Homo sapiens: one gene and its partner. The protein of the gene in region 1 purifies or fractionates together with the protein of each later gene. This does not show direct contact. Each region holds a gene or a part of one and is shown on either strand. Other genes may lie near its edges.

The links.
Region 2: the proteins of KLHL3 (region 1) and CEP290 purify together in Homo sapiens (affinity purification with mass spectrometry; one large-scale study listed by BioGRID and IntAct). This does not show direct contact.

What each region holds. Positions count from the first base shown.
Region 1 is NC_000005.10:137,631,573-137,635,185, forward strand, and holds part of KLHL3 (kelch-like protein 3), read right to left. Parts: intron 2,594-3,613; coding exon 2,465-2,593; intron 1-2,464. UniProt on the Homo sapiens protein: Substrate-specific adapter of a BCR (BTB-CUL3-RBX1) E3 ubiquitin ligase complex that acts as a regulator of ion transport in the distal nephron.
Region 2 is NC_000012.12:88,079,476-88,083,088, forward strand, and holds part of CEP290 (centrosomal protein of 290 kDa), read right to left. Parts: coding exon 3,556-3,613; intron 2,902-3,555; exon of another isoform or gene 2,838-2,901; intron 921-2,837; coding exon 707-920; intron 1-706. UniProt on the Homo sapiens protein: Involved in early and late steps in cilia formation. Its association with CCP110 is required for inhibition of primary cilia formation by CCP110.

The DNA of each region.
Region 1 (3,613 bases):
GGATTTAAAAAGCTAACTCTGGAGTCAGCATTACTAATTATATGACCTTGGGCAAATTACTCAACCACTGGCAGACCTCCTTTCTAAATCTGATAAGTGCAATTCATATTGTATCCACCTCGTAGGGCTGCAGTGAGGATTAAATGGATTGAGGCATAAAAAGTACTTGTTAGGACAGTGCCTGGCACATAGTAAGCCTTAACTTTCAAAAGATATAAACACCTTCATAGAAACATAAGGTATGATGAGGAGGAGCGTATTATCTCATCCATTCTCTAGTGATCCCCCAGGAAAGGTTAACTTATAAAGTACTGTGTCTAGCTGCAAAGGTGCTAGTAGGATTATATACAGCAAAATGAAAGGAGGAGGAGGAGGTAAAATAAAATGTTAAGTTGTTGAACCAATACCCACTCATGACTGATTAAAGAAATCACAGATTACACAAACTGGAAAAACATCCCATATTCATGGATTGGAAGAATCAATATCATTAAAATGACCATATTCCCTGAAGGAATCTACAGATTCAACACAATTCCTATCAAACTATCAACATCATTCCTCATAGAATTAGAAAAAACAATCCTAAAGTTTATACAGAACCAAAAAAGAGCCCGAATAGCCAAAGCCAATCTTAACCAAAAAGAACAAAGTCAGAAGTATCACATTACCTGACTTCAAATTATATTACAAGGCTATAGTAACTAAAACAGCATGGTGCTGGTACCAAAAATAGACACAGAGAACAATGGAACAGAATAGAGAACCCAGAAACAAAGCCACATACCTATAACAAGCTGATCTTCAAAAAAGTCGACAAAAATAAAACAATGGGGAAAAGACTCTCTATTCAATAAATGGTGTTGTATGTGGCTAGCCACATACAGAAAAATGAAACTAGACCTCTATCTCTTACCATATACAAAAATTAACTGAAGATGGATTAAAGACTTAAATATAAGACCTGAAACTATAAAAGTCCTAGAAGAAAACCTAGAAAAAACTCTTCTGGGCATTGGCCTAGGCAAACAATTTATGACTAAGATGCCAAACGGAAAGTGCAACAAAAACAAAAATAGACAAATGGGACTTAATTAAACAAACAAAAAAAGCTTCTCCACAACATAAGAAATAATCAACAAACAGTCAACCTACAGAATGGGAGAAAATATTTGCAAATTATGCCCCCCAACAAAGGATTAATGTTCAGAATATACAAGGAACTCCAACAACTCAACAAGGAAAAAACAACCCCATTAAAAAGCAGGCAAAGGATATACATACAGACATTTCTCAAAATAAGGCATGCCAGTGTGGCCAATAATCATATGAAAAAATGCTTAACATCGTAATCATCAGAAAAATGAAGATTAAAACCACAGTGAGATATCATCTTACAGATGGCTATTACTAAAAAGTCAAAAAAGGCCGGGTGCAGTGGCTCATGCCTGCAATCCCAGCACTTTGAGAGGCCGAGGCAGGTGGATCATGAGGTCAGGAGATTGAGACCATCCTGGCTAACAGGGTGAAACCCCAACTCTACTACAAATACAAAAAATTTGCCGGGCATGGTGGTGGGTGCCTGTAGTCCCAGCTACTCGGGAGGCTGAGGCAGGAGAATGGCGGAACCCGGGAGGCGGAGCTTGCAGTGAGCCGAGATAGCGCCACTGCACTCTAGCCTGGGCAACAGAGTGAGACTTCATCTCAAAAAAAAAAAAAAAAAAAAAAAAGTTTAAAAAAAAAAAGACTTTAGCATGGTTGCAGAGAAAAGGGTATGCTTATACACTGTTGTGGAAATATAAATTAATACAACCTCTATGGAAAAACAGTATGGGGATTTCTCAAAGAACTCAAAATATAACTACCATTTGACCCAGCAATCCCACTACTGGGTATCTATGCAAAGGAAAAGAAATCATTATATTAAAAAGACATGTACAGTTATTATGTTTAAAGCAGCACTACTGACTACCACAAAGTCATATAATCAATCTAAGTATCCATCAATGGCTGATTAAAGAAAATATAGTATGTATACACCATGGAATCTTATGCAACCAAAAAAAGAGTGAAATCATGTCCTTTGCAGCAACATGGATGGAGCTGGAGGCCATAATCCTATGTGAGATAACCCAGAAACAAAAAATCAAATACTGCATGTTCTCACTTATATGTACAGGCTAAATAATGGGTATACATGGACATAAAGATGAGAACAATAGACACTGGGGATTCCAAAAGGGATAAGTCTGGGAGGAGGGTGAAAGTTGAAAAATTACCCATTGGGTTCAATGGTCACTATTTGCGTGATGGGTACACTAGAAGCCCAAACTCGACCATTATGCAATATATCCATGTAACAAACCTGCACATGTACCCTCTAAATCTAAAATAAAACAAAAAAATTTAAGGACCCACTTGTGAGCAAATCAGACACAGCCAGCACCCCGAGGTTCTCCCATACCTGCGCCACTGCGGCGGGTGCTCATGTCCGCCACGTATATCCATTCATTGGTCGCTGGGTTGTACTGCTCCACAGTGCTCAGACACTGGCGGGAAGCTCCATCATAACCCCCAACAGCATATAGCTTCCCTGCAATAGACAAAGTGGCTGAGTGTGGTGCCAGGGATACTGGCATGAAACCAGAGCTCAGCTGAAACCCTATCTGCAACCAACTGGGGCACCCTTACCTCAGAATTCTGTTCCCTCTTTCTCCAGGGGACCACCAACTTACTCCTCAACCAAGCAAAGCATCCTTCACATTTCTTCACATATTCTACTTGCTCTTAAGCCATGAGCTCCTTAGAAGCAAACACTTAACGTCTTTCTAAATAAGTACCCGCAAATACCCAGCACAAAGCTATGGCCTGGCACCACTGGGGCTCAACATAATCTTGCTGATGAATTAGGTTAAATTTTCTCTAGAACAAGACACCAGCACCAGATAGATGGAAAGCTAGAAGGCCCCCAGCTATAGGCAGGCAGACCATCTTTCTGGCTAAAGGCTTGACATAGCAGATGAAGTAAATATGGAAAATTATTATTCAATGAGAACCCAAAACCTGTCTTAGCCATTGTCTCTACCCCTTCCACAACCTTGGCAGGTAGAGTGTGTGAATGGAGTGTTCTTTGTACATTGTGGGCCAGGGTGGCTGGAATTTTTCTGCAGACTACCCTGTGATCTCTGAGCCATGCACAAGAGCCCTGAGGTGCCGTCATTTACTTTTAAATTAAAATACCATTAAGCTGCTACCCAAGAGCATCATTTCTGCCTGGGGCTGGGGGCTGAGGGCTGAGAGTGAGGTTGGACACAGGAGGAAAAATTTGGCATTTGAGCTATCCCAAAGCAGAAATTCAAACATTTTGGGTTTAAAATTTAGTCTTAAAATGCAATGGGATGGTCTCTTCTGTGGGAACAGGGGGAGGAGTCACACTAGCTGTAGACTAAATAAATATCACCAAATGCAAATCTATTTAACAGGATTACTTACTCAGTAGATTTTTTGGTCACATGTGCTTTCTTGATGGACAGACACCAAGAATACTACTAGTATTTGAAAATCTGCAATTATTTTAAGTTAGAAAGATTCTCAGGCTCAAACCTATACTCTG
Region 2 (3,613 bases), on another chromosome or scaffold:
GCATTAAATCAAGCTATTACAAAAAACAGGTATGTTTTGTTTTCAAACATCCAATTTTAGATATTTATATTACTCACTTACTACATCCTTCCATATGAAATTAATTGAATTTAGGTAGACAACAAAAGGACTAGGAAAGGCTTAAAGTTTACCCATAAATTTCATAGCTAGCACAGAAAAACACCAGCATCTTCTAAAACAATTTAAATAGATCAAATCTGAGATAAACTAAAAAAAACCCTAATAAATCAGAATACACTGACCAACTCCTTCTCACAAAAACATCTCTATGACCCCCTTTTTTCATCCCTTTTTGTCATTATCATACTTCCCTCAATCCCTCAAATTGTTCAAAATTGTTCATTTGTTAAAAATAGCCTCAGTAGCATAAAATTCCAGTAGAAAAAAAGAAAATACAATGTAATATATATTATATTTTTGTAATGTACATTAAGATTTTTCCTAACTTCATATAGATAATTCACAAATCAGATTGACGAAAACATAAAAAGATAAATTGGACTATATCTGCCCACAAAAACAGCATTGTCTAAAATACCTTGTTTAACAGCATAAGATAAAGCTCATACTTTTTATTACAACACGGAGATTTATACTACCATCTTTTATAAATTTACAAATCTTCTCTAAAAGCAATCTACCACATATTTTTCCTAAATGTTGATAATTTTCTGTTGTTACTTACTTTCTGTTGTTTCTCCTTCAAGGCTAATTGGCTCTTTAGCCGTTCTACTAGATTTCTCATTGTAGTTGTTGGAGCTCTTGAATTTGCTTCTTTTTGAGCCTGAAGTTCAGATTTTAAACACTGTGACTCCTTTTGTGACTGGTCCAGAAGATACTTTAAATCCTCTACTTCCGCTTTTACTTTTTTCACTTCATCTTCATGGTTTTCTTGAAGCCTGATGTAAATAAACATATGTGTGTGTGTGTTTTTTAATTTTTAATTTTTTTGAGACCCAGTCTCACTCTGTCACCCAGGCTGGAGTGCAGCAGCGCAATCTCGGCTGACTGCAACCTCTGCCTCCCAGATTCAAGTGATTTTTTTGCCTCAACTTCCTGAGTAGCTGGGACTACGGGCGTGCACCATCAGGCCCAGCTAATTTTTGTATTTTTAGTAGAGATGGGGTTTCACCATGTTGGCCAGGCCAGTTTGAACGCATGACCTCAGGTGATAAGCCCGCTTTGGCATCCCAAATTGCTGGGATTACAGGTGTGAGCCACCACACCTGGCCAAACATATGTAATTAATAGAGTGGTTGCTGCAATTCATACCTTGATTAATACAAATTTCATATAGAGCAAATGTTCAGTCCTAAGTATCCTTACAATCTAAATCTTGATGCAGGCATCCAAATCCAAAGAAGAATAATTCTTTATTTCATTTAACTACTCTTAGACTTAACAACACATTTTTCTTCTAGTTTCTAATATTTTTGGCAACAATCTTATCAAGTTATTTTGTGACTCTAGTCAAATATACAGAGAATGAACAAAAAGGCATTTTAAATATTATGGCTCTTGTAAAATGTGATTGCTTCCTCTATATGATAGTTTCCTAACCATACTACTAGTAACATTTTTGACTGGATAATTCTTTGTTGGTGGTGGGGCTGCCTTGTGCATGATAGGATGTTTAGCAGCATCTTTTGATTCTACCCACTGGATACCAGTAGCACCCCCGAGCCATGACAATCAAAAATGTCTCCAGACATCGCCAAATGTCCCCAAGAGGGACAATGGTGAAAAACTGATCCTCTATATTTGAGAAATACTGCCCTATATTGACATATTGAAAAGACTAATATAAATTTTCACAGAAATCACATGTATTATTAATTTGTTTATGGTTCAAATTCACTAGCATTATATCTATAACTATATATATGGAAGTGGATACTATCAAAAGATTTAGTTAATTCAATTAATCTTATTGCTTATTCAGCATTAAGTCTGTTAAACTGAATTAATATATTGTTGTGCATATGGACACTGCATCCATACTGAGATTCTGACCAATAAGAGGGAGATAGTGTTAAGACATGAACAAATGTTACTCTTTGAGGCTTCTTGCTTTTGGCAAAACTTAAGTCTAACTTTAAAGAGTCATCATCAAATTGTGAAAATATCAGGATTTACTTAAGAAATCACACAGATCCATAATCTCCTAATACATATCAAAATATGCACACAGAGAACACAAGTATAATTTTGGACTAAAATGACGTAAGGTACACAACAATAACTTCAAGTATTTCCTGTGGCAAAAAAATGTATTATATAAGGTATTTCAAAAGATTATGATTTTCTACACCCACAAATTAGATGCAAAAGCACAAGTAATTTTATACTCCAAAACATGACAGAAATTTACTAGACCAAAAATAACATCTCTTGTACAAAATTTAATAGAGTGAGGAAAAGAGACTGAAAATACACATATGCTGTTGCCAATTTTCTTTCTTTTAGAGAGTAATTTCTTAACAGTGGCAGCTCCTTAGCAAAGCAAAAATAGTGTTAATTCTGTCAGAGGCATTTGAATAAGTGAGTAAAGAATCAAAGACTCTAGCAGGGGCTTGAGAGCTGAAATGGAATTATAAGTCAAGCAGTTCAATTTTCTCATGTTTTTTCAGATAATAAAATTTAGGCCCATAGAGATAATATTATAATGATTAGAAACTACCTAACTATAAACCTATTTTGAGTTTAAAATCTACGTTCTGATAAAGTGGTTGAACAATGTTTAGAATCTCTATTATATGACAGACACTCTTATAAGTGTGTAATCAAAAGTTTTCTATCTGTATGTTATTTTACAGTTTTCAAATTACTTTCATACACGGTATAATTTGACCTTCATATAACCACCCTGAAAGGGCCAGGGTAAGTATTATTATTTCCATTTTAAAGATGATGAGGCTGGGTGCAATGGCTCAGGCCTGTAATCCCAGCACTTTGGGAGGCCGAAGTGGGCGGATCACTTGAGCTCACGAGTTCAAGACCAGCCTGGGCAACATGGAGAAACCTTGTCTCTACAAAAATACAAAAAAACTACCCAGGTGTGGTGGCACCTGCCTGTAGTGCCAGCTACTCTGCAGGCTGAGGTGGGAAGATGGTTTGAGCCTGGAAGGTCAAGGTTGCAGTGAGCTGAGATTATGTCACTGCACTCCAGCCTAGGAAATAGAGCCAGACCTTGTCTCAAAAATAAAAATAAATAAATAAGATGAAACTGAGGCTCAAAGAAGGTAAAAATGAGATTCTGGAAAAGAATTTGTATTGGCTTTTGAGTCAGACTGACTAGTTTCAAATTATGGCTTTCCCATCTACCCCCAGACATGCTATTAAGCATTCCTGAGGCCATATCCTCTCTTTAAAATGGGGAAAATGATAACATATGTAACCAGCAGTCCTGAGGATAAAAATGAGACAATATACTTAAAAGTCTTAGAACAGTGCCTGGCATAGCAAACACTTATGTTTATCTTCATTATATCACTTATCATTTGCCTATTTTTACAATACATTTCGAAGACTTACTGTAATTTGATATTTTCAAATTCTTTTACTTTTAATTCAGTGATTTCTCTTTGTCTCT